4 linked regions of the Homo sapiens genome follow. The protein of the gene in region 3 purifies or fractionates together with the protein of the main gene of each other region. This does not show direct contact. Each region holds a gene or a part of one and is shown on either strand. Other genes may lie near its edges. The genes, in order: NELL2, TIMP3, COLEC11 and COLGALT2.

Region 1 (7,027 bases), on a different chromosome or scaffold from region 3:
AAAATTTGCAAATACATAAAAATTAACATGCTCATGAACAACTAATTGGTCAAAAAAGAAATTAAAAGGGAAATTAGAAGGAAAGGGGAAATTAGGGAAATTAGAAGACATCTTGAAACACATGAGAATGGACACAACATACCAAAACATAAAGGATGCAGCAAAAGCAGTTTTCAGAGGTAAGTTTATAGCAACAAATGCCTACATTTAAAAAGAAGAAAATCTCAAACAAATAACCTAAAGTTACAAATAAATGAACTACAAAAAGAAAAACAAAATAAGACCAAAGTAAGACCAAAGGAATGAAATAATAAAGATCAGAGCAGAAATAAATGAGAGAGACTAAAATTAATAGAAAAAATAAATGAAACAGAGAGTTGTTTTCTAATGAAGATAAACAAAATTGACATGCCTTTAGCTAAGAAATTTAAGAAAAAAGAGAGAAGACTCAAATAAATAAAATCAGAAATGAAAGAAGAGACATTATTACTGATACCACAGAAATACAAAACATCATGAGACTACTATAAACAATTATATGCCAACAAATTAGATAAACTTAGAAGTTTAAGTGTATATGTCTAGGAATGTATTCATTCCTAGACACATACAACTTACCAAGACAAAATCATGAAAAAATGAAAAATCTGAACAGACAAATAACTTGTAAGCAAATTGAATCAATAATAAAAAGTCCTTCATCAAAGAAAAGTCCAAGGCCTGATGGCTTCACTGCTAAACTCTATTTAAATAACCAATACCAATCCTTCTCAAACTCTTCCAAAAAAATGAAGAAGAGGGAATAAATTCCAAATTTATCTTATAAGGCCAGCATTACTATGACACCAAAGCCAAATAAGGATACTACAAGAAAATTACAGGCCAATATTGCTGACGAACAGAGATGAAATAATCCTCAACGAAATACTAGCAAACCAAACTCAACAGCACATTAAAAGTATCATTCACCATGATCAAGTAGGATTTATCCCAAGGAGGCAAGAATGGCTCAACATACACAAATCTATAAATGTGATACATCAAATTAACAGAATAAAGGACAAAATCCACATGATCATTTCAACATATGCAGGAAAACATTTGACAAAATTCAACATCATTTCATGATAAAAACTCTCAATAAATGTATAGAAGAAATGTATCTCAACACAATAAAGTTCAGATATAACAAATCTACAGCTAACATTATACTCAACAGTAAAAAGTTGAAAGTTTTTCCTCTAAAATAAGGAAAAAGACAAGGATGCCCAATCTTGCCACTTCTATTCAACATAGTACTGTAAGTCCTAGACTTGCAATTAGGCAAGAGAAAGAAATAAAAGGCATCAAAATTGGGAAGGAAGAGGTTAACTTATCCCTGCTTGCATTTGACATCATCTTATATCTAGAAAATCCTGAAGATGCCACCAAAAAATTGTCAGAACTAATAAATGATTTCAGTAGAGTTTCAGGATATCAAATCAATATACAAACAAAAAGTAGTGTCTCTATGTTAACAATAAACTGGTGAGGTGCAGTGGCTCACACCTGTAATCCCAGCACTTTGTGAGCCCGAGGCGGTCCAATCACTTGAGGTGAGGAGTTCAAGACTGGCCTGGCCAACATGGTGAAACCCTGTCTCTACTAAAAATACAAAAATTAGCCGGGTGTAGTGACGGGTGCCTGTAATCTCAGCTACTTGGGAGGCTGATGCAGGAGAATAATTTGAACCTAGGAGGCAGAGGTTGCAGTGAGCCTAGATCTCACCACTGCTCTCCAGCCTAGGTGAAACAGTGAGGCTCCATCTCAAAAAAAAAAAAAAAAAAAAAAAATGAACTACCTGAAAAAGAAATCATGAAAACAATCTCATTTACAATGGCTATGAAAAAGATAAAATACTTACATATAAATTTAATCAAGAAGGTGAAAGAGCTGTATACTGAAACTATAAAACACTGATGAAAGAAATGAAGAAGACACAAATAAATGAAAAGATATGCTTTGGTCATGGATTCAAAGAATTAATATTGTTAAAATTTCCACACTATCCAAAATGATCTACAGATTTACTGCGACCCTTATTAAAATTCCAATGACATTTTTCTGTATTCATTCATCCATTGGTGACCATTAATTAGGTTGATCTCACATCTTGACAATTATGAATAATGCTGCAAAGAACATACGAATGCAAATGAACACATAAAGAAAATGTGGTATATGTACACAATGGAATACTATTCCACCTCAAAGAAGAAAATCCTGTTATTTGAGACAACGTGGATCAACCTGGAAGACATTATGTAAAGTGAAATAAGCCCTTCACAGAAAGACAAATACCACATGATCTCACTTATATGTGGGACCTTAAAAAGTTGAACTTATAGGAGCAGAAAGTAGAATGCTGGTTACTAGGGCCTGGGGATGGGGGATAGTTGTTGGGGAGATGTTGGTCAAAGGACCAAAATTCAATTAGATGGCACAATATGTTCAAGAGATCTATGGTACAACATAATGACTATAGTAATAATACATTGTACTCTTCAAAATTTCAAATAGATTTTAAGTGTTCTCACCAAAAAAAATTATAAGTACATGAGGTAATGAATATGTTAATTAGCTCAATTTAGCCATTCCACAATGTATATTTCAAAATATTGTGTTGTACACAATAAATGTATACAATTTTGTCAATTTAAAAATAATTAAATTTTAAGTAACAAAACATAAAACAAAAACAAAAGTCTCAAATCTCATCATCCAAATCATCTAAAACAGGTATGAGAAAGGCGCTGCATATAATCCATTCTGAGGCACACCTTGAAACATAGTATCTGCTCTCAAAAACACAATGGTAAGGCAGATAAAGATGATAGTTCTAAATATTCTCATTCAAAAAGGGAGAAAATGGAAGAAAGAAAAAAAAACAATTGCCATATCCAAGCAACTTTAAAATCCAGCCAGGCAAACACCACTTGGTTTCAAGGTCTAGAAATAAGCTTCTGTAATTATTGGTTCCACCCTCTGGAGTCAGCTCCATGCTCTGGGCTCTGAGTTCTGCCCTTTGAATTAACCTTCTTTTTTCATGAAAGGTAGCTTCATAGAAAGATGTTGACAGCCAAGTCAGCCTGTTTTTTGCTTGTAGAATTTTGGGGATCCAACACCTTCTTTCATTTTATTCTCTCACTGATTCTTTCAGGCCACACCAGCAGCAATTTTACTGCCATAATATTCTTAAGAACCTTGTAGATCTCCCATGTATGTCATGGGGATTCACTCCATTAAACAAAAAAGGCTCCTCCATAGATATTTCTTGGATAATTCCATCTCTATTTGTGACCTCTGCTGAAATGGTTGAGGGGATCTATGAGTCATATGTTCTTCAAAGAGCCCTCAATGTAACTGAATACTCTGACCTTTTGATATTTCTGAGGCACTAGCAAAATATTTTCTAGTCACATCCTTGGCTTTCTTTTCAGACTAGGTATTCCTAACAGTGAATATCCTATTTTAACATGTTTTGGAATCTGAATAGGTTGATAATTTCTCAAATATCAAGTTATGAATATGTTTTGCTCAACAATTATTCCCTAAATCTCTCTCTCTCCTCTCACGTTACTACAAACAGCAAGAAAAAGCCAGAGTGCACCTTCAACACTTTTGTTGCTTACAAATCACCTTAGCTAAAATCTAAGTTCATTGTTTACAAGTTTTGCTTTCCACATAACCACAGGGTACAATTCAGCTAAGTTTTCTGCCACTGTGTAAGAAGGGTCCCCTTTCCTTCAGTTTATAATAAAAATTCTTTATATCCATCTGAGCCCTCAATGGCAGTTCCTTCAATGTCTATACCTAACCAATGCTCGCTTATGATAATTTAGGAATATTCAGAGGTGATTTAGATTTTCTCTCTACCATGCTCTTCACTTTCTTCTAAGTCCTCAATAATAGAGTCACCAATAACCATATTTCTACTGAAAGTCTATTTAAGGCAATCTAGGCTTTTTCTATCATGCTCCTAAAAATTCATCCAGCATCTGCCCATTGCCCAGTTCCAAAGCCACTTCCATATTTTTTAGGTATTTCTTACACCAGCACCACACTTCCATGCAGGAAAATTTGTATTCGTTTCCTATTGCTGCTCAAACAAATCACCACAAACTTAGTGACTTAAATCAACACAAATCTATTATCTCACAGTTCTGGAGATCAGAAGTCCAAAATGAGTCTCATTGGTCTAAAATCAAGGTATCAGTAGCACTACATTCCTTCTGGAGGCTGTAAGAGAAAACTCATTTTCTTGCCTTTTTCAGCATCTAAAAACTGCCTGCAGTCCTTGGCTTGTGGCCCACTATCACCTTTAAAGCCACCAGTGGCCAGACTAGTTTTTCTCATATCACATCACTCTACACTGACTATTCTGCTTCCTTCTCCCCATTTCAAAAGATTCTTCTGATTACACAGGGCTCACCCAGATAACCTATGATAGCCTCCTAATCTTAAAGTCAGCTGATGAGCAAACTTAACTTCCCCTTGCTGTATAACGTAACCTATTGTTTGGTTCCAAGAATTAAGACATGAACATCTATGCAGGACCATTATTCTGCCCACCATAATATATATTTCCATAATGATAAATTTTCAATTCTGCTCTATTAGTATAGCCTACCATGTAACCTGGTTCCTGCTTTCCTCATATACTTTATTTCATATCACATGCCCTATGTTTCTACTTCTCTAGACTTCCTCCACGTTCTCAAATGCACATTCATCCCATGCTCAGAACCTTGCTCACACACTAGTCCCTTTGCCTATCCCCATAGCTTCTCTTCTTTGGACTACTCTTACATATCCTTCAACTATCAGCTTAAATGACTATTCTTCAAAGATGGTTTCCCTGAGCCTGAGACTCCCCTAACTAAAATATAGATTCCCATTATATCTTCAGTTTTTCTTCATATAATTTATCTTAATGGTGATTAGGTCTGTAACTATGTAATTGTTCAACGGCTATTTTTAAGACACTATGAAATCAAAGTTAAGTTCTAACGTCTTCATTTGTTATGTGCCTAACACCTAGCAGTATGCTAGTTTCCCAAAAATAACTTATTTGAAAGAATGAAAGTAACTCGCTTAATTGTCATAACAATGATCATTTTATAATTGAGGGTACTGGAGCTTAGAGAAATTAAGTAACTTCACCACAGTAAAACAACTAATGAAATTCCACCTCAGTCTATCTTGTTTCTAAGTGCATCTCTTAAACACTGTGTTATTCCACACTATTTGGGCACCAACAGCCATCACTTCAAAGTCCACAGATGCTCACCAACCATCATACTGAAGACAAATTAGTGCCACCTCGATTTCCTCAATGCAGTTACCTTTGCCTACTAAAGTCCATGGTCTATTACCAAATGCCTATTTCACTCTGCGTAACACTGGCATAAGAGGAGACGTACGACCTTTTTTTCCCTTTAAAACCTTAAAGTTTTTTACAAATAACTACTAAGCTTATTTTCAACTTAACAACTTGTAAAAAAAACATGCTTTGATTTTATCCACTTCTCTTCTATGGATTAATGAGATTATAAAATCTGTTAACACTTCAGAAGAAATTGTATTAAACCAACAGAGGAAATTATCTACTTTGGGAACCTGGCCAGATTAATTGTTAAAATCAAAGATCTAAAAATCATGCTAACATTGCTAGAAAGTCCTAGAATGGTGCTTCTGTATACTCTCATTCCTGATCCCTCATGTACAGAGAGGAAAAAAACATTATTATGATCATTATCTTGGGGAATACTTCCTAGATTTTAGAAAGTAGAACCCTTTATAACCTTTCATAGGTCTTTTTATTGTCTACATTCACTCCTCTAATTTTTAAAAGCATAATAAGTGTATTTTTGTGGCTGCAAGTCAGATTATAGCTAGAAATGACTAGAAAATTGCCTGGATTCCTTTTTTGAAAATTATGGTAATTGGCAAAGATCAAAAGCCATATTTATTAAGGTGTAATCTAATTTAGCATCTTATTACTTGAATTTCCAAAACAACTATAAATCAAATTTCAACAACAACAAAACCATTTTAGTGATACTATAGTTGCTATTATTATTTTTAAAACATATGACTTTAAAATATATTTCCATTTGTTTTTATTAGGTATAGATAATAATAAATTTACGAGTTTCAAAAGGTATTGAATTGCATGCATCTCAAAATCCACTAAGGAGAAAAACTGGCACAAGGAAAAGCAATATTAAATGAGCAAAAATCACTGGGAAAGTATATGTTGAGATTTCTTTATTTTAAAGCTAAAAGACAGAAGAAGATGGTTACATTACTGCAGGAAAAATTTGATGGTCCAAAAATCTCTTCCATCTATTTAGAACATATCTGATAGCACAAAGAAACTTATATGATAGGTTCATATGAAACCTGAGAGCATCTCACGGATTTTGTAATTTGTTACTATTCCTGCTATGACTATGTATAGTGTATATGTATATACCGTACAAAATATCTGCAGCACCCTCAACTCACTGTAAATAGAATCTATAAAATCTTCAGTCTGTATATTTTTTTCTCTCTAAAGCCAAAGGAAATCTCAATGAAGCAGCAAGACTCGGAACTGACTTCTTAACAAGTTTCCAAATGCTATTAGCAAAGACCTTGCCAAGGTAATGCGAAATTCCATGCATGGCCAAAGGGCCACCTTTTGTCAATTTCATAATCCGAATCTTAGAATAAAAGAAATCACAAGAGCATAATCAATACATCAGTAATATATGCCTACTGAGAACATGGCATGCAGGAAATACTTGCTGATTGATTGGTTATATTAAATAAAGTCCATAATTTGGCAGAAAATGAAATTTTACACCTTCAAATCTCATAAACCATATTTGTTAGGCATTTACTCTGTCTAAATATTGAGCTCGGCATCAACAAGGAAGGAAAAACAACCAATTCATCAATGTACATGGATATCTAGTTACTATGGACAATTCAAACAAAACAT
Region 2 (7,027 bases), on a different chromosome or scaffold from region 3:
TTGACTACACTCTCATCTGCCATCTGAGCTAAGCCAGGAAGGCAGTTAAAGAAAGGCCCCCAAACATGAAGCAGGGACAAGGAGACGGACAGGGGTCAGATGACCCATGATAGGGAAGAGAGGGTGCTGACGGTGTTCAGAATTTCAAATTTTAATTAAAATGAAAAAAAAATGTCAACTTGGAATGTCATGATTTTCTTCAAACAAGCAACGACAACAAAATAGAAGAGATTAAACTATTGGCATATTTAACAGCATTGAACAGAATTCTGTGTCCTGTAAAAAAATTAGCTTATGTCCCCATGTGGGTATATGCAAATGTGTATACAAACATATCCCCCTAGGTGAGCTAAACACTATTCTGGAAATAGTATCCTCTACCCAAATCTACTTGGCTATATCTGTGGATAGTGTATGGTGTGTGTATTTATCCAATTTACATAAAAGAAAGCTCCTGGCCAAATCTACCAAAGCGTTTTCCAGGAGGAAGTCTGGTGGGAGGCAGGGAGAGGAAAGACATTCATCTCAGTCTTTCACCTGAGCTTTTGTACAAGGCAGGCAAATTGCCTCCTGACCTCAGGCAGATGTTTAAGTCTTCACCAACTAAGAAAGCTCTGTTATTCTGGCCTGGGTGCTTGCTCCAGACTCAGGAACATCTGGTCAACACAAGCATCACTGGGCTGGGGAATTGTGTGTGTGCTGCATCATCTCCGACTCTCTTGTAGTTCCTTCCTTCCCTCCCTCACTCTTACATGCAGACACAGACAGACACAGTCTGGTTGGGACATGCAGTGGCAGCTCCTGGTGTATAACATCTTTCACACACCTTGAGTCTATCTGCTTGCTGCCTTTGACTGATCCTGAAATGGTTGGCCTTTCAGCAAGTTCCTTGTCTGTGTCCTTTATGTATTGGAGGAGAAGGGCAAAGGGAAGAGGGTCTGGGAGATGGTGAGGTGGGGAAGAAGCAAGAGGGGTGGGAATTACAATCCTCAAATGGAGTAGTTTTTCATTTTTGTTTTCCTAAAAAAATAGAGATTATATTATCACGAAGAAGAGGAATACAGGTTCCTCATTCTTTCTGGCATGGCACCAGAAATTCCCAGGTGGAAATGAATGATGTCAAAACCAAAAAGAAGGGGCAGGGTGGGGCCAGGAGGATAGTTCCCAATAAACCCCATATGACAGCATAGACCTTTCTTTAAATGTTCCAAGTGCTAAATTTGCAAGAAAACAGGCACTAATTTCATTGTCATCATCTGGGAAGAGTTAGTGTCCAAGGGAAGCTCAGCGGGAAGGGAGGGAAGTGAGGTGGGGCAGGGTCTGGCGCTCAGGGGTCTGTGGCATTGATGATGCTTTTATCCGGGGGGGCCCATCCTCGGTACCAGCTGCAGTAGCCGCCCTTCTGCCGGATGCAGGCGTAGTGTTTGGACTGGTAGCCAGGGTAACCGAAATTGGAGAGCATGTCGGTCCAGAGACACTCGTTCTTGGAAGTCACAAAGCAAGGCAGGTAGTAGCAGGACTTGATCTGCAATTAGATAACAGGCAGCAGTTGATGGACTCTGCCATGGTATGCCCAGGCCTGAGGCTACCGAGCCTGGATTCAGACCCTGGGGCCACTGCATGGGAAGCCTAGCCACATCAGTCCCTCAGTGATCATAATATAAATAGCACTAGCTTGAGCATCTGCTGTCTAACAGACATTCTGATAAGTGCTTTGATATTATTCTCTTTAATTCTTATCACAGTTTTAGGAGGCTCTGAGAGGTTAAGTAACTTGCTGCAGGTCACACAGCCAGTAAGTAGCAGAATTAGACTACTGAGAGGACTTTTTCGTCTCAGGTGGGAGATCTCAGTTGTTTTAGGGAATCGAGGAATTAGAAAGGTTAGAGCATAAACTTTGGAGTCTAGCTGCCCTAGGTTGGAAACCAGATTCAGTGAACTGTGGGACCTAGGGCTAGTTACTTAAGTTCTCTGAGCTCTCATCTGCAGAATGGAGATCATAGTAATTAAAACCACACAGGACTGTTTTGAAGATGAAGTGAGAGAATGGCCCAACTTCCTCCCACAGCAGGCAGGCTGCACCTTGGCCCTATACTTGGGTCAGGGGGATGGGCCTGGTAAAGAGAGACCTTCTGTAGCATCTGGTCTCTGCAGTCCTGGGCCCATTTGCCTACCTGGGGTGGGGTTAGCGATGAGTCAGCTACCAGGGTGAGCCCACTTGAAACCACTTGGGAGAACCTGCCAGTGTCAGGATCCTATACCTCCAGCCTTGAACTGCCAGGTGGGGCCAGGGACTCAAGAGCCCTCATGCCCCAGCAGCTTCCAAGTGGTCATCATGGAGGCAGCCGATTACAGCAGAAAGGCATTCTTCCTTCCCTGCCTTCCTCACTGCCCCACCTGGGGCAACAATCCTTACTATATCTGCTCAGACCTGCCCCTCTGCCCTGGCCTAACACATGCATACCCTTCCCAGCCGAGGGCCTGGCACCCAGTGCATTGGGAGCTGATGTTTCTAGGGCTGCAAGTCAGCACCTCCCCTCCTTCCCCCAGTGACCCCAGAGCTTACCTTGCAGTTACAACCCAGGTGATACCGATAGTTCAGCCCCTTGCGCTGGGAGAGGGTGAGCTGGTCCCACCTCTCCACGAAGTTGCACAGCCCCGTGTACATCTTGCCATCATAGACGCGACCTACAGGAGGAAAGAAGAAAACAAGGAGAGGTTGTTTTGTCCAGAGCCTAGCCCAGAGAGAATTCACACCTACTATGTTCCCACTTAGCCCAGGCACTGTGGCTGGGTACTTTTCAGACCCATGATTTTATTTCACCCTACCCAACACCTTTTAAAATGGACTGTAGCCCCATTTTCCAGATGAGGATAATGAGGCTTGGAGAGGTAAAGTGATTTGCCAAAGGTCCCAAGCCCATTAAATACTGGAGCTAGGACTAGAGGCCAACTCTTCACTCCCTTTATAATGATTTTTGTTTTTGTTTTCTCCTTTACTACACTGACTGCCTAAAGATGAATAACTTTCAAAGACGGGCCTAACAGGTCGAGTGTGAGGTGGAGAGGAACAGATACTCCCTTTTTATTTACAGTAAAGTTGAGAAGCTACAAATTAGGAGATTTCCTCCCCCAGGTGAGTGGTGGAGCTAATTCCAAAGTCCAGCCTAAGTGTAGGAGCCTCAAGCTCCTAGCACTGGGTAAGTGGGATGAATTCAACATTAGAGACTCCTTACAATTTACTGGACATTTGGTGAGTCAACTACTCCGTATGTGTTCTTCTGAAGTCAAGAAACAGTGGACCTTGGCCAAACCCTGGCCTAGAAGCTAGAGTTGGCCATTACCTGTCAGCAGGTACTGGTACTTGTTGACCTCCAGCTTAAGGCCACAGAGACTCTCGGAAGCTTCCGTATGGATGTACTGCACATGGGGCATCTTGGTGAAGCCTCGGTACATCTGTGGGCAAAAGGAACATCATGACTTCTTCTTTCCCAGTTTGGACACCCGTATGATCCCTAATCCCACTGCTGGGTATGTATCCAAAGGAAAGGAAATCGGAATATGGAAGAGGGGTCTGCACTCTCATGTTGACTGCAGCAATATTCACAATAGCCAAGATATGAAATCAACCTAAGTGCCCATCAACAGATGAATGGATAGACAAAACCTGGTATCTATACCCAATGGAATATGATTCATCCAGAAAAAAGAATGAAATCTTGTCATTTGTGGCAATGCAGCTGGAACTGGAGGTCGTTTTGCTAAGCGGAATAAGCCAGGCACAGAAAGACAAATACACCATGTTCTCACTCATGTGGGAGCTAAGAAAGTAAATCTCATAAAGATGGACAGTGGATTGGTGGTTACCAGAGGCAAGAAAGGTAATAAGGATTGGGGCAAAGAGATATAATTAATGGGTACAAAAATACGAGTACGCAGAACAAGTAAGACCCAGTGTTCATTGAATCAGTAGAATGACTACAGTAAACAATAACTTATTGTATATCTCAAAGTAGCTAGTAGAGGATAATTCAGATGTTCCCAGCATGAAGAAACGATAAATGTTTAAGGTTATGAATATCCCAATTACCCTGATTTGATTACTATACATTTTTGAATATATCAAAATACCACATGGACTCTCAAAATATGTCCATTTATTATGTATCAATAAAATAAGAGGAACACAGGAGAGGAGTCTCAGTACCCAGAAGGCTTGCTGACATTGGATCTGAGGGAATCTCGCTCCCCTATTCAGCTGTCCAGTGGCCGGTCACTGATCTACCCACCCCAGGGCCCCCTTCACCCCAGATGAAGCCACCGATCCTCTTGACTAGCCAGGTTGGTGCCTTCCCAGAGAAACCTTCCTGTGCAGCCAGCCATACCCCCCATTCCAACTGCCCCACAACACTCCTTCGGCTACACATGTCTGACATCCCAGCACCTTTTCAGAAATCCAGAGAAGTAGCTGTGACAAAGGTCCTTTTTCTTTGTCAACCTTAGGACCTGAGTCCCGTGAACTCAGCCAGCATTCTCATGATATCTCTGTGACACTTTCCAGCCCACAAAAACATTCTCACTCACATTCTCCTTGCAGTATCCTTAAAAGAGCCCTGGGAGGGATGTATTACAAACCCCACTTTATAGAAATTCTATTTGGCTGGTGAACGTTGAATTCAAGCTAGAAATTCTCCATGTTTTTTATTCTTCTGAGCGTCTGGTGAAAGCATTGGGTTCGTTTATCCCAGATGAAGCACATAAATGTATCTACAAAGTTCAAAGAGTTTTAACTGTTAAATACTTTATAATTGTTAGATTGAACCACGTGAAATTGCTGATATTTGGCTATTTGTATCTACGACATAATCTAATACAGTGGTTCTCAACTGGAGGCAATTTTGCCCCCCTAGGAAATATTTGGGACATGTGGCAATGTCTGGAGACAATTTTGGTTGTCACAACAGTTCGTAGAGGGTAGGGAGGTTGCTAAACATCCCATAATACTCAGGACAGCCCCCAGAACAAAGAATTATCCGGCCCCAAATGTCAATGGTACTGAGGTTGAGAAATCTCCTTTAATATTAGCCCACGAATCACCATGACAACCCTATGAGGTAGGAACTATTATGCCCATTTTATAGATGAGGAGCCTGAGTCACAGGCAGGCTAAGTAGCTTGTTAAGGCCACACAGTTGGGAAATGGCAGGGCTAGGATTCCAAGCAGAGGACTCTGCCTTCAGAGTCCATACTCTTACCCATTATCTTAGACTGGCTCCCAGGAAAGCCTCAGAAGTCTATGACCAAGGTCCCCAGAAGCAGGCAAATGCTATTTCCATTTATGGCCACTGTGCCTCCTTCAGAGGCACAGTGTGTGCCCAGAGTCACTGGGGTGAATGAATGTAACAGAAGCTGAGTCCGCTTTGTGATTCCAGGTCAAGTCCATGAGTATTACACAAGCCCAGTGTGCCAAGGCGATACTGTGAACTGTGAGATTTGGTAACGGGGGCGGTGGGGCACCAAGGTGTTGCACAATTCTGTTATCCCCTCAGTTCTCAGCGTACACAAGCCCTGGACTGCTGGTGGTCTCTGGGCTTGTCCCAAGGGTTTATAATAGGAAAATGCCTCTACTTTACTTCCTGGCATTTGGTATTAATTTACCTACAGTAATTAATACAAAGCCAGACATCTCTTCATTGGTGTCTCTTCTAAATGCCTCCCATTTGGCCTGTGAGCTGGCGTTTTCTCATCTTTTAAGTGGTGACTGGTTGGCGGGGGTAGGTGGTCCACAAGACCTTCATAGCATAACTTGGTCTGTTGGACCTACTGAGTTTGGGCGCCCCTGCCTTGTTAAAAGCACACATTGTTCTGATGGACTCAGATGGTCTTCCTTCTGAACCTCTCTTCTCCCCCAAGGCTTGCCAACTGAGCACGGTAACGCAGCCAAGTGCTGGAAGAAGTGCCGTCCACACTCAGCATTCAATTACGCGGTGGGGGCGCGGGGTGGGTAGAGTCACGATGATGACTTCTTCTATGTGAATGGTGCCTCTCTAGCCTTAACAGGAACCATGTTTAAGCGTGCTGCTGTATGCCTGCCATGGAGTGTGGCCTTCGAAGAACATCCCCTACCCTGACTTCTGTGCCGAGCAACTTCTTATTTTTGTGTGGGTGTTCCTTGAGGTTTTGGCAAATGTTTCAACTAAGCACTCGCTCTAGGTCTTTTGGACCCAGCCCATGGGAACCTCATTCCTTCTGCGTCAGTCTTTCCCCTTGACTGCCCTAGTGCTTCGTGGGTGAGAGAATGAAGCCCCTGGTTACAGTCTGGTCATTTGAACTGCTCAGTAAGAACTCAACTCATCGAAATCAGCTTGGCACCGCAGCTACTTGGAAGTTTGAAGGAACCTGCATTTTAGCTCCTAGCACTTGCCTAGAGTCGAAATTCTGACACATTACAAATGACTGGCTCTGACAAACATAGCGCTGTGTTTTAGGGTCAATTCTGAAAAGAACAACATGGCAAAGGTAGATTCTACTCAGTTGTGTTTTCTGTGTAATAATCCTACCTTGATTTAAATATTGATTCTAAAAGTATCATGTCTGTAATCATAGAGATCTAGAATTGGTTTGACAAATTTAGGAGAGTTATAATAGGTTTATAATGTCCTGACATCAGAGAATCCTAGAATCTCAGAGTTGGAAAAGATGTTAAAGGTAATCTAATCCAAACCAATGCCATGGAGATCAGTGGTAAATTCAGGTTTTGGAGGCTGACAGCCAGAGTTTGAATCTTCAATCTTCTCTGCCACCTGTGTTCGCCACTTGGAAAGTTACTTAACCTCTTTGGGTCTCAGTTTCTTCATCTGTAAAATGGGTCAAAGCACTTCTTAGGGTGTTTGAGAGAAGCAAATGACTTAGAATAGCAGTCAGCCCACAACATTCAATAAAAGTTAGCTTAGAACAAGTTATACTGAAATTCGTAAGGAGAGGAGGAATGAGTTTGGTCCCCTTTCTCCTAAGTCCCTTCCTCAGC
Region 3 (6,983 bases):
ATGGTGAAACCCTGTCTCTACTAAAAATACAAAAATTAGCTGGGCATGGTGGCGGGTGCCTGGAATTCCAGTGACTCGGGAGGCTGAGGCAGGAGAATCGCTTGAACCCGGGAGGTGGAGGTTGCAGTGAGTCGAGATCACACCACTGCCCTCTAGCCTGAGTGATAAGAGTGAGACTCAGTCTCAAAAAAATGAAATAAATAAAATAAAATAAAAATAAAAAATACAAAAATAATGTCAAAACAAGGGGCACCACAAGGTTTGTAGCCAGACGTGCTGGTCCACTGGGCTCATAACCGTAGTCTCCCCGGCTCCTGCCTCAGCAGCAGTATTTTGGCTCCTTGTGGTATGTGGCTTCTGAAAGCAATAGTAAACTCTTCCTCCCCACCCACTCAGTACGCAAGTCGAACCTCACTTCTCAGTGTTTGCTGGATGCAAACTGGGTTTAGTTTTTTTTTTTTTTAATGTCTCAGGAATCAAAGGCTGACATGGGAATTTCCCCTCTAGCTAGAAGTGATTCTGTTCAGGTATAACCAGGTGTTCAGCAAGGCTTTTACTGCCCTCACTCCGCAGATGTCCCAGGAGTGGCTTCAACAAAGATCAGGCTCCGTCTCCCAAGAAAAGGGGTGAGTAGTGAGCAGAGAAACCCAGAGCAGCCCAGGCAGGATTTCTCGTGCCTTCACTCACACTCATCTGCTGATCCCAGAGCAGCCCAGGCGGGATTTCTCGTGCCTTCACTCCATTCATCCGCTGACCCCGGAGCAGCCCAGGTGGGATTTCTCATGCCTTCACTCCATTCATTCACTGACACCAGAGCAGCCCAGGTGGGATTTCTCGTGCCTTCACTCACACTCATCTGCTGATCCCGGAGCAGCCCAGGCTGGGATTTCTCGTGCCTTCACTCCATTCATTCACTGACCCCGGAGCAGCCCAGGCCGGGATTTCTTGTGCCTTCACTCCATTCATTCACTGACCCCGGAGCAGCACAGGCTGGGATTTCTTGTGCCTTCCCTCACTTCACTCATCCACTGATCCCCGGAACAGCCCAGGCTGGGATTTCTCATGCCTTCACTCGCTCCACTCATTCACTGACCCCGCTGCCCATTCACAGAGTTTCTGTCCACTTTCCTGCGAGGGGCCCCAGCTAGGCCTATGGGCACAAAGGAGGCACAGGCCCTGCAGCGGGGCGCTCTCAGACGCACAGCAGGAACCAGGGCAGGTAGGCACAGGGTGAGGGCACCCAGGCGCCCGAAGGAGTCTCTGCTTCCCAGAGGTCTCGCCCTCTGACTGCCTTCTTAGAAGAGGAATTCCATTTTGTAAACGGAGAAGCCACAGCTACCCCCAGGACCTCTTTAAGAACAACATCCTTATCTCCCAGCCAGGGCCCAAGACGCTCAGGGCCCTCCCATCAATGGAAGGGGCAGACTTGACAAGCAGGGGAGAGGGGGTTAAACGTGGAATCCTGAGAGGAAATACATGTTATGAATGAAATAAACAATGGGGCCAGGCCCAGTGGCTCATGCCTATAATCCTAGCATTTTGGGAGGCCAAGGTGGGCAGATCACCTGGTTAGGAGTTCGAGAGCAGCCTGGCCAACATGGTGAAACCCCCCTCTCCACTAAAAAGTACAAAAATTAGCCAGGTGCCATGATGCACACCTGTAATCCCAGCTACTCAGGAAGCTGAGGCAGGATAATCGCTTGAACCTGGGAGGCGGAGGTTGCAGTGAGCCAAGACGGTGCCATTGCACTCCAGCCTGGGTGACAGAGCCAGAGTCCATCTCAAAAAAAAAAAAAAAAATGAAATAGACAATGAGAAAAAATCATGGCTTCAGTTGCCAAACATGCTATTCTACTTTTTCATTAAGTATCTACAGCAAGGCCCAGCATCTTACAGGCACCACAAATACCTCCTAAGAACCACATCCCTGAAGCATGAGGAGGTTCCTCTCACTGGGGACTGCCCCAGCCCCACCGCGGTGTTTCCCTCCCTACAGTGACAGAGCACCTTCTGGGGCAGCCTGGATTCCACCCACAACAGCACACGCTCCTCTTAGCTTCTTACCAAGAGCACAGAGTAAGAAGGCACCTATCCTCTCTTATCTTCCCCCAGCGGTCAGCACATTACCGGTGTGCTCTCTTCTACGGTACATGGATTTTTCAAAATTGTAAACAAAATCGAATAGCTGTGAAAGATTGGGGCAGTGCTCTGCCTACCACAGGCAAAGTGCTTCCCATCAAACCAAAATTCCAGCTATGCACATGAGATGGCTTTAAACGTTCATCTTTAAATTGAGAACGACCACATCACCTCAGCTCTAAAAAGACCGCCAGTTCCTAGCGCAAGGCATCCAGGTAGGAGGCAGCGGCCCTAGGAAACTTTCCTCCTTTCCAATTTTGGAGACAAGATGACCCCACTTGGTTTTAGATGACCCCATCTGAACTCAAAGTCTTTCCCTGGAAAGTTGCCAAAGCAAGGCCCACCTTTCCCCCACCTCTCTGATCCCCGTTCCTGAGCCCAACACAGAGCCACTGGTCCCTGGGGGCAGTCGTGGCTGCTGTCCGCCTGGCCCGTCAGACGCTGCTCAGGCTCAGGAACAATCGTCAGGTTGTGAGACCAGGTACTGCACTGCGGTTTGGAATTAGCGAAGACTGTTTAGCCCCCTGGGCCTTGGGCTGTTTGAAATCTGCCACCCAAGAGGGTGACTCCATCATCCAGCACCTCTCATGGGTCGGATCCCATCTCATCAATAGGCTCCACGAATTTCCGCCATGAACTAATCAAACTTTGGAACTCTGGTGCCAGATTTATTGAGACTCAATCTTTTGCCTGGATCTAGGGACAGATTCCCATCCTCCTCGCTCAGCAGGAGCCCACCTCGCGCCCAGTTTGGAAGCCTGCCTGCCTCCCCTCTGCACTGTCATAGCCCCGTGAAACCCTCAGCTGCAGCCCCGGGCAGAGTCTCCTACCTGAGCACGCGCTAGGCGAACGGGGCGTCCTGCCCGTCGCTGGCCCGCGAGGACACTGCCCCCAGGCGCCTCATGGCTGCTATTTAGAGAGGCGGCCGCAGTCCCAGGCGCAGGGAGAAGCCTCGGCCCGGGCCATCAGACAGCCCAGCAAATCAGGCCGCCCGGCCGCAGCGTTATCTCGGGGAGCTTCCTGTCTGCGCTGCGTCCACCGTCCTGCCTGGGGAGTGTGGGAACGCCTGGAACTCCCTGAGGCCGGCTTTGGGGTGGGGGGCAGGACCCTCCTGGAGATGCCCCTGCTAACTCTCCAACCCGAACATCCCAATTTTGTTTCTTTTTTGGCTTTCTCTTCTTTCTTTTCGTTTTTTGAAAAAATAAGCATGACTACTGTGGAAATTCAAAAGAGCATAAAGAGGAGGGACGCTCATCACCTGGCACCAATCAGACAGAAACGAGGGCAGCTGACTGATCTCCTTTCCTTTGTTCATATGGGATTTCGCTTCAAAAGTCAGCAAGAGCTTGACCACGGCCTGTGGAGACCTGGCCACACGTGAGTCCGGAAACTCACTCTACGCATTTAAGTTTCATTTAAAGGCAAGTTTCATTTAATGCCAGAAACAAATGTTAGTCAGGGGCTGGACAGATCCAGCTTCTATGCAGCCCGAATCTTGCATGTTTTGGGGGATAGCGGAACCTTCTTTAAGAAAAAGATACATATAAAATTACAATCATAAGAAGCTAGGTTCAAAGGTGAATATTTATTTAGACTGAGAAATCATAAAATAAAACTGTAAAAACACAAATTCCACACACATAATAAAATTAAGGAAAAATAATGGATTCTTTATTTAAAACGTATTATTGAAGTTATACATAAATTTGACAACTTAGACAAAATGAACCACTTCTTGAAAACACGAACTACAACATGCCCAGCATGAAACAGATAATTCAACAGCCCTATGCCAAGGAAGGGAATTGAACTTGCAATTTAAACGCTCCCCAGAAAGACATTTCAGGGCCAGATGGTTTCACAGGAGGGTCTACAAAACGTTTAAAGAAAAATTAACACCAATTCTACACATCCTCTTCCAGAAAATAGAAGAGGAGGGAATATTTACCAATTCATTTTATAAAGTTGATTATTACCCTGATACCAAAACCAGACAAAGACAGAACAAAAACACTATAGACCAATAACCCTCATGAATATAGATGAGAAAATCCTTAATAAAATATTAACAGACAGAATTCAGCAATATAGAAAAAGATTTATCAACTATGACCAAATGGGGTTTCATCCAGGAATGTGAGGCTATGTCAATATTCAAAGCTCCTTTGATAAAAACCCATTAACAAGCTAACAAAGAAAATCAAATGAATATCTCAATTTATATAGAAACAGCATTTGGCATAAACCAACACCTTTCATGATAAAAACTCTCAGAAAAATAGGTGCAGGGGACCTTCCTCAACTTGATAAAGAGCATCTGTCAAAGGCAAAGCCACAGCTAACATCATACTTCATGGGCAAAAATGGAATGTTTCCTTCCTGAGATCAAGACAAGGCAAGGGTGTCCACTCTTACCTCTTACTCAATGCAGTGCTAAAGTTCTAGGCACACCAGCAGGGCCCGAAAAGGAAATAAACAGCATGTAGATTCGAAAAATAAAATAACTCTGTCCCTTGTTGCAGATGACATGGTTGTCTACTTAGAAAATCCCAGAGTCTACAAAAGAGCTCCTGGAAACTATTAAATCAGTGTGACAGGTGACAGGATACAAGGCAAACATTTAAAAAACCAAGTAGGCCAGGCGTGGTGGCTCACACCTGTAATCCCAGCACTTCGGGAGGCCAAGGTGGGAGGATCACCTGAGGTCAGGAGTTAGAGACCAGCCTGGCCAACAAGGCAAAACCCCATCTCTACTAAAAATACAAAAATCAGCCAGGCATGGTGGTACATGCCTGCAATCCCAGCTACTCGGGAGGCTGACGCAGGAGAATCACTTGACTCCGGGAGGCAGAGGGTGCAGTGAGTTGAGGTTGTGCCATTGCACTCCAGCCTGGGTGACAGAGCGAGACTCTGTCTCAAAAAAATAATAAACAATGAAAAACCAAGCAGATTTCTATAAAATAACAATGAACTCATAGACACCAAAATTCAAAATAATATCATTTACAATTGCTTTAAAAAAGGAATACTTAGGTGTAAATCTAACAAAACATATATAGAACTTACATGCTGAAAACTACAAAATGCTGCTGAAAACCTCAAAAAAGATCTGAATAAACAGAGAAACACGTCGTCTTCATAGATTAGGAGACTCACCCCAAGCACAGTGGCTCATGCCTGTAATCCCAGCATTTTGCAGGGCTGAAGTGGGAGGATCACTTGAGTCCAAGAGTTCAAGACCAGCTTGGGCAACATGGTGAAACCCTGTCTCTAACAAAAACAATACAAAAATTAGCCGGGCATAGTAGAATGGTCCCAGCTACTCAGGAGGCTGAGGTGGAAGGATCACTTGAGCCCGGGAGGTGGATGTTGCAGTTAGCTGAGATCGCACCACTGCACCCCAGCCTGGGTGACAGAGTGGGACCCTGTTTCAAAAATAATAAAATGAAAATTAAAAAGTATAGATTGGGAGACTCAACAGAGTAAAAATGTTGATTCTCCCCCAAGTTAATATACAGTACAAGCTTAACACAATTTCTATCAAAATCATAACAATAATTTTTGTAGATATAGACACGGCTATTCTAAAGTGTATATGAAAAGAGAAAGGAACTAGAATAGCTAAAACAATTTTGAAAAAGAATAAAATAGGAGGAATCAGCTCTCCGTCTCCGTCTCCGTCTCCGTCTCCGTCCCCGTCCCCGTCCCCGTCCCCGTCCCCGTCCCCGTCCCCGTCTCCGTCTCCCTCCATGGTCTCCTTCCACGGTCTCCCTCTGATGCCGAGCCAAGGCTGGACGGTGCTGCTGCCATCTCGGCTCACTGCAGCCTCCCTGCCTGATTCTCCTGCCTCAGCCTGCTGAGTGCCTGCGATTGCAGGCGCACGCCGCCACGCCTCACTGGTTTTCGTTTTTTTTTTTGGTGGAGACGGGGTTTTGCTGTGTTGGCCGGGCTGGTCTCCAGCTCCTAGCCGCGAGTGATCCGCCAGCCTCGGCCTCCCGGGGTGCCGGGATTGCGGACGGAGTCTCGTTCACTCAGTGCTCAGTGGTGCCCAGGCTGGAGTGCAGTGGCGTGATCTCGGCTCGCTACAGCCTCCACCTCCCAGCCGCCTGCCTTGGCCCCCCAAAGTGCCGAGATTGCAGCCTCTGCCCAGCCGCCACCCCGTCTGGGAAGTGAGGAGCGTCTCTGCTTGGCCACCCATCGTCTGGGATATGAGGAGCCTCTCTGCCTGGCTGCCCAGTCTGGAAAGTGAGGAGCGTCTCTGCCCGGCCGCCATCCCATCTAGGAAGCGAGGAGCGCCTCTTCCCCGCCGCCTTCCCATCTAGGAAGTGAGGAGCGTCTCTGCCCGGCCGCCCATCGTCTGAGATGTGGGGAGCACCTCTGCCCCGCCGCCCTGTCTGGGATGTGAGGAGCGCCTCTGCTGGCCGCAACCCTATCTGGGAGGTGAGGAGCGTCTCTGCCCGGCCGCCCCGTCTGAGAAGTGAGGAAACCCTCTGCCTGGCAACCGCCCCGTCTGAGAAGTGAGGAGCCCCTCCGTCCGGCAGCCACCCCGTCTGGGAAGTGAGGAGCGTCTCCGCCCGGCAGCCACCCCGTCCGGGAGGGAGGTGGGGGGGGTCAGCCCCCCGCCCGGCCAGCCGCCCCATCCGGGAGGTGAGGGGCTCCTCTGCCCGGCCGCCCCTACTGGGAAGTGAGGAGCCCCTCTGCCTGGCCAGTCGCCCCGTCCAGGAGGGAGGTGGGGGGGTCAGCCCCCCGCCCGGCCAGCCGCCCAGTCCGGGAGGTGAGGGGCGCCTCTGCCCGGCCGCCCCTACTGGGAAGTGAGGAGCCCCTCTGCCCGGCCAGCCGCCCCG
Region 4 (7,208 bases), on a different chromosome or scaffold from region 3:
AGTTCTTAGAAGAACCACGAGCTCTTATTATTATGTGTGGAATTTATAAATAAATGTAATTTTGAGTAAGTCAATCACTTTAAACACATTTCTTCTTCTGGGAAATAGAGATAATTTTATTTCTTCACAGAATGGCAGTAAGAATCAAATGAGTTAACAGTGCATGGAAGTTATTTCCAAAGGTTCTTTACAGCTCCTTTGTGAGCTGAAAAGAACTATTTAGAAACTGGGATTTGTATTATTGTTACCTAAAGAATTACACAATGTTTTAAAGACAGAACCAAAATTTTTCAAAGAAGAGTCTTCAATGACTGACGCAAGCATGGCCTTGCACTTCTTGCTTAACCTGCCAATGCTGGACATAAAAGACAACAGATTTCAAAGGTCTATGCAGAACTGGAATTCTCTCATCTAAGTAAGACACCAGTGTCCATACCATCTGGAACTTACAGGGAACTTAGGATGTACATTGATGCTGGTTGATCCTAATTATATTGCAAAATCTATGGAATTCAAGAGCCATAAAGAATTTTTGAAATCATTTATTCCAACTCCCTCGTTTTATTGATGAGGCAACTGATGCCTATGGATCCCAAGCAACCAGCCCCAAATCACATATCAAACTAGTAATAAACAACTCAAGTCTCCTAATTTGTAGATTATAGGCTTATGTAAATTTTGTTTATATCATGTTTCCTGCCTTTTTAGGGTGGCCTTGGGTTCAAATTCCAGTTTCACCATTTATTAATTCTGTCACTTTAAGTGACTTACTGAACTGATGCAAGTCTGTCTCTTTCTTTGCAAAATAAACATCATAGCATCCTCTTAAAAGTTTACTGTATGATAAAAAGAGGTAATGTCTCTAAATCAGGTAGCAAAGCATGTGCCTGACACCTGCTTCACCACTCACCAACTTCTTATGGTAAATACTGTAACGTTTTAAAAAACTAAATCATGCATAAAGATCAAAACCATATTTTAAAATATCTCTTAAAAAAAACACAACAACTAAGGTAACTGATATGTGTGAATTTCTTTTGGTACCGAAGTGGTTAAAAAAAAATCCTTCCTTCTGGTTTAAAGCCTGGCTGTCCCAGTGCTCTCTTTCCACATAATATGCCCTTCTCCGCCAGGCGGTCACGTATGGCAGGGTATATAGTAAAGCAGTGTACAGCACAGAGCTGTACTATATCACATGTTTGCTTTCGCACCTTTGCACCTCTCCCACCAGGTACTCTGAGGCTGCCAATTCTAGCTGCTGCTTTTACTCCTCTTCCTCTCTTTGCCCAACCGCTGCTTTAAGGATGTGTCTCGCCTGAGAACAGCTCCCTTTATCAACACAAGACAGAAATTGCTCCAGAGTGACCTGGGCTCTGTCTTCCTCAGGGGGCCAGAGTCTTCTTGTCCGAGTACCTACCTGACAGCACATCTCCCCTGGCCAGCATCCACCTCCTTGTCCTCCACAACCCACTCAGCGGCTAACCTGGCCACCAACTAACTTCTCGCCCTCGGATCCTCGCGTTTATAAAAGGTGCGAGACGACCAAGTTCTACAAGGTGGGGCGGGCAGGCACCCGCACTTATCCCCTGGCCCTCCCCGCAGCAGACACAGGGACCAGGTCCAAGCTTCTTTCCTCCGGGGACAAAACTTGGCTGTTTATCTTTCCCAGGGCATCTTCGTCTCTCCCCGGGACGTGGAACCCCGATGCACCGGCAGGGACAGCCCGGAGCGCTCGCAGGAGACCAGGCCCACGGTGGTGCCATGGTTGGGCACACTCCGCGGGCTCCGCCCAATCTCCACCCCTAGGTCCAGGTCCCCCTAGGAGAGCTAGGAGCACATTTCCAGCCTGGAGCAGGAGCCCGGCACCGGAAAGTCAGAGCAGCGCACTGCGGCGCCCCAGCCACTGCGGAGCCCCTGGCCAACCGCAGTTACGTTCCATCTGTCGTATCTACATGGGAATACGGCGACAGGCACCCTATCCCCTCACGTCAGGGCTAGCAGTATGAGGTGGGGAAAGAGGAAACCTCGAGAGTTAAAAGCGAGGGAACTGAAAGTCCCCTTGAGGGGTGTCCCCCATGCCCCTTGTGGGACAAAGCCCCAATTCGCAGGCTACCCTCCAGAGCTCCAGCGGTCCGGTTCTCCCCATCAGCACCCTCTGCGCACACTGACCCGCGCGTCCCTCCGCAGCCTGACCGCCCGATCCGCCAGCCACCGGCGCGGGCAGCGAGGGGGTGTGTGCGCCAGATTTTCCGCGTGCCCCCCCGCCCCTCCAGCGGCTCCCTCGCCCTGCAGCTGCTGCTCCGGGCGCTGTCCGCGCTGGGCAGGCCGCCCCCGCGTCCCGCCGCGGCGGCCCGGGGCCCGTGCGCGCTCACCAGATGGCCATCCTGCTCTTGGGGTAGTCCAGCCGCTCCAGGCAGCCGAGGAAGTGCGGCAGCGTGTGCGCCGCGTTGCGGGCGAGGACCGCCACGAGCACCGTGGGGCTCTGCAGGGGCGACTCCGGGAAAACCACCGGCTCCTCTCCGTCGTCCTCCGAGTCCCGCTCGGCGACGAAGCGCGCTCGGCAGCCTTCGCGGAGCAGGGCTGAGGAGAGGAGCAGTAGCGACCAGGCGAGGGTGGCAGCAGGGCGCGCAGCCATGTTCCGGGCCGAGGCGGGCGGCGGGGAAGTCCTGGCGCGAGCGCCCGGCTGGGCTGCCTGAGGGCGGCGGCGGCTGCCGGGGAGCAAGGGGCTGCGAGGGGCGGCCGGGGGATGCGGCTTGCCGCGGCCGGCCGGCTCACACACTGGCCTCGGCGGCTGCGGTTCCCAGGACCCTCCCGCCGCCGCTGCACCGCCCAGGCCCCAGTGCGGGTGCGCAGCGTACCTGCAGCCGCTGGCGCTCCCCTGCGCCTCGGGCTCGCAGACAGTAGTGGCCGAGGGGCTGTGTGCCCTGAGTCCTGAGGAAAGTTCCTCTAGTCCAGGTTCCGCTCGTACAGCTGAGGTCTGTGGCCTTCCCTAGAGCCGCGAGTTGTGGCCCTGTCTGCCAATGAGCCTGTGAGTGTGTGTGTGTGTGTGTGTGTGTGTGTGTGTGTGTGTACATAACGGTACAACCCCAAGAAAATTTATTCTGCTTTTGCAAACCGCAGACTGAAGCCCTTCACAGTGATGCAATGTATCCAGTTTTCATAATGCACCTATTGACTGAGTAGAGTTCTAAAATGAAAAGTCTCCCCAACTATTCACGATTATGACAAACACTTGTTTAACCACCGCAAAGGCAGCATGTCGCATTTTCTTATATACTCAACTTCTGAAATTCATTCTTGACTGAGTAGACACCTAATAACACAAAGTTTGAAGACTTGGAGAATTTTGGAGCCAGATCAGACCCCGCAAAATAAAAGAAAGCCCTTGGGAGACACTGTCCTGAAGCCTCACTCTACTGTGAACCCAGTAAGCCTCCTCACAGGAGGGCTGTGAAAGAATAAATTCACTTAGCTGGTTTTCTTTTTCCGTAATAAGCCAATATGATAGAGTAACAAAGAGGGAAAATTCGCGCATGTTGGAGAGCAGAGAAGAGATAAGGAAGAAAAGAAGGGGTGAAGGAAGAACACAATTAGCACATAAAATGAAACTGCTGGCATACACTGCTAAAGGAGATTTACTTTTTTTTTTTTTTTTTTTTTGAGACAGGGCCTCACTCTGTTGCCGGGGCTGGAGTGCAGAGGCACGATCACAATTCACTGCAGCCTCGACCTCCTGGGCTCAAGCAATCCTCCCACCTCAGCCTCCCGAGTAGCTGGGACCACAGGTGTCCATCACCACGCCTAGCTAATTTTTTTTTTTTTTTTTTTTTTTGTAGAGACGGGTTTTCACCATTTTGCCCAGGCTGGTCTGGAACTCCTGGGCTCAAGTGATCTGCCCAACTCGGCCTCCCAAAGTGTTACGATTACAGGCATCAGCCACCATGCTCGGCTGGATATTTAGTTTTGAAGATATATTGTGTAGCCTTTGATAGATAAGTATGGAGGGTGTTTTGGTGCCAGTGCACATTCATGATCTCCAATCCCAACTCACCCTCAGGTCTGTCCCATAGTCTTTTTATTAGTTGTTATCAATCCTTCTCAGCAACTATTAGAAGTCTTCCCTACTGTCTTTTGAAGTATATCACCTCCTTCATCCAGCTCCCCCAACACCACTGTCTCCAACTAGCATCCCTACCAAGACCTTTCTTACTTGCAGGTGCCTCCTCACGACAGGGTCTTTGATCACAGACTAGAAAGGGAGAGGTCTCCCTTTCTAGCCCATGATTTTTCTCTATCATTCCACTCTCTACTGAATCTTCAACTGATCTCTATCAACTCCTTTCTCTCAAGCTAAATACTTGGTCAGTCTTCTCTTATCCGTTAAAAAAAAAAGAAAGAAAAGCTTTAAAAAAAAGTCCTGTGTCTTCTTCTAGTCATCCCTTTGCTTGACCAAGCTCCTTGGAAGAGAGATCTATACTTGTATTCTCCACTTCTTCATCTCCCATCTTTCCCACCACAGTGCAGTAAGGCGTCAGCCCTCCCCACTGTTCTGCAAAACCAACAGATGGCCTCAGCATTGGCAGATTCAGTAAACTCTTCCGTTCTCACCTTCCTGGACTTCGATTACATAATCTCCCATCCTAGATCTCCTCTGATACTACTTGTCTCTGAGCCAAGCCCCTTCACTGTGTGCCTCCCTATAGTGTGCTAGTCTTCCCACTCCATATGGTCTCCTGTGGTTATATCCTCAAAATCTATGTCTTCTGCTCTAATCTCTTCTCTAATCTTCATATTTTTTTATCGAATGGCCTACAGACATTTCCTTCCCCTCCATCCATTTTCAGGAATTGTTCCCACTTTCAAGGGGCTCACAGTCTTGTAGGGAAGACTGAGAGTTAAACATCTGTTAGAAGTACTGTAACAGATGTACCAGCTACAGTGAAGGGATAGAGGAAGATGTGGTCATTTCCACAAGGGAGGTAGTGATGGGACTGTTAGAAAGGTCCAGACAATCTCCATGTTGTTCTGTCTTTCTTGTTTCCCTTTCTTGAACTATGTCCCACTCATCTTTCAATACTAAAATCCGCACTCCTTAGCCAAACTTGGTTTGATAGTTATCATTTGTTCACTTTACTGCAAACAGAGGGAGTTTAAAGCTAGGCAACCACATTTCTGTCTTATTTTCCTTCTGTTACTGATATGGTCTGCCTATGTCCTCACCCAAATCTCACATCGAATTATAGCTCCCATAATCCCCACGTGTCGTGGGACGTAATTGAATCATGGGGGCAGGTTTTTCCCATGCTAGTCTCGTGATAGTGAATAAGCCTCACAAGATCTGATGGTTTTATAAAGGGCAGTTCCCCTGCACATGCTCCCTTGCCTGCCGCCATGTAAGGTGTGTCTTTGCTCCTCCTTTGCCTTCTGCCATGATTGTGAGGCCTCCCCAGCTATGTGGAACTGTGAGTCCACTAAACTTCTTTTTCTTTATAAATTACCCAATCTCAGCTATGTCTTTATTCACAGCGTGAGGACAGACTAATACAGTTACCTAAAGTCAACAGCTTATCTGAGTCTATTTTTTCAAAGAAAGGTGAAGCATCTAAACCTGTATGGTCTCTAATGACATTATAATGAAATCGGCTCCATGGAGTTCTCTTAAAATAACTACAACCTGCTCTGCTCTGTAGATGAAATCAAGGGTTTCCCAGCCACATAACCTACAAAACACCTATTTAAAACTTTTAATTGAGTGCTCATTTAGTGACTGAGAATATTAAGGTAATAACAGGGTATGCAACAGTAGAAGATCATTGTAAATATGGTTGGGAGGCAGTGGAGGGGAAGCCTGGGAAAAATTAAGTCCCCATCTTACTAACAGATTTGTTTCATAAGTTCTTCAGAAATCAGTAATGTGAATTTGGATGTTTCCCCCCCGCATAGGATTGATGTTATAAGACAGTTAATTTGAAAAAAAAAACTAATTTAAAAATAAAAGCCAATTATATTTTAAAATATTCATTGCTTATAATGCTCTTTCCATGGAAAATCGGCTGAATGGAAAGTCAGGGTTGTACACACATATCTCTTTGTCTCCACTGCCAGTAGACTGTTCCAATTGATTCTACATAAAGTTAGAAGTAAGCACTTTCTCTCATATCCCCTCCCCATACTGTTCCAGCACAGGGGACTTCCATCTGGGACAACAAAACCTCTTGGACTGTCACCCTTAGTGCAATGTGGTGGGGACAGGGCCTATGAGGTGGCCAGAGGACTTCTTGCAGGAAAGCTTCTCAAGATGTCTGTGGCTCCAGCAGCCCAGAAGAGGAGGAAATAAATGCCTCTGGGGCAGCTGTGATAGGCTTGAAAGAGCAACTGACACTTGGAGCTGAATTTTCATTTCACTGGTGTCACTTATTCTCTTTGTGACCTTGGAAACTTGACCTCTTTGAACATCAATTCCTTCCTAGGTAAAAAAGTTTTAAATGCTTGCCTCATTTTTTCATTCAACAAACATTTATGAAATTGCTAAATGCCAATCATTTGAGTGTTGAATATTTGAATGCTTCTCCCTTGGAAAAACAGGGAGAAAGTGGCCAGCCCCTCGTAAGTCCTGCTGGGCCATAGTTGGCAGAAAGAGTCTCTTGGCTGAATTATCCAGGCTTCTTTCTTCTGTACTGAAATATCTTTCTTTCACTACCTGGTTTGTTTTACTCGCTTTTCTGATCCATCCTAAAATCCTACAATGTAAAATGTACTTGAATTGACAATTCTGCCAATTTCAACATGAAAATCCTTGAGAGAGGAGCATTAGATGATATCTTTTTAATTCAATCAGATTTTTAAATCTTATCACCTAAACTGAAATGGCCTATAAGAAGTTTTGATAAAGGGAACTGAATGGGATCCTAATTTGAAGCATGGGTCTCTTTGGTGACAAAGCAAGTTTTATGGATTTCTGATACGTAGGCCCGAGGACTCTGGGTCCTAGGAAGGGAATTAATATTAAGGGAGAAAAAGAGCAGTGACTGAGGTGGGAAAGGCTAAAATTAAACTACGTCAGTGTCAAAGTTTTGTCTATGCTCTGGCTGCATCCAAGAGCTATAGAATAGTCACTACGGAGGAATGTTTTCCAATTCAAAACAAGTTTATACAAATGTAAACTACACTTCTACGTCTCATTTAAGAATAGATGCATCCCTTAAATT

The links.
Region 1: the proteins of COLEC11 (region 3) and NELL2 purify together in Homo sapiens (affinity purification with mass spectrometry; 3 studies listed by BioGRID and IntAct, with this or other methods). This does not show direct contact.
Region 2: the proteins of COLEC11 (region 3) and TIMP3 purify together in Homo sapiens (affinity purification with mass spectrometry; 2 studies listed by BioGRID and IntAct, with this or other methods). This does not show direct contact.
Region 4: the proteins of COLEC11 (region 3) and COLGALT2 purify together in Homo sapiens (affinity purification with mass spectrometry; 3 studies listed by BioGRID and IntAct, with this or other methods). This does not show direct contact.

What each region holds. Positions count from the first base shown.
Region 1 is NC_000012.12:44,866,312-44,873,338, forward strand, and holds part of NELL2 (protein kinase C-binding protein NELL2 isoform b precursor), read right to left. Parts: intron 1-7,027. UniProt on the Homo sapiens protein: Plays multiple roles in neural tissues, regulates neuronal proliferation, survival, differentiation, polarization, as well as axon guidance and synaptic functions.
Region 2 is NC_000022.11:32,853,678-32,860,704, reverse strand, and holds part of TIMP3 (metalloproteinase inhibitor 3 precursor), read right to left. Parts: intron 3,457-7,027; coding exon 3,345-3,456; intron 2,689-3,344; coding exon 2,567-2,688; intron 1,526-2,566; coding exon 1,328-1,525; 3' UTR 1-1,327.
Region 3 is NC_000002.12:3,591,155-3,598,137, reverse strand, and holds the start of COLEC11 (collectin-11 isoform a precursor), read right to left. Parts: upstream 3,027-6,983; 5' UTR 2,970-3,026; intron 1-2,969.
Region 4 is NC_000001.11:184,034,723-184,041,930, forward strand, and holds the start of COLGALT2 (procollagen galactosyltransferase 2), read right to left. Parts: upstream 3,007-7,208; 5' UTR 2,636-3,006; coding exon 2,373-2,635; intron 1-2,372. UniProt on the Homo sapiens protein: Beta-galactosyltransferase that transfers beta-galactose to hydroxylysine residues of collagen.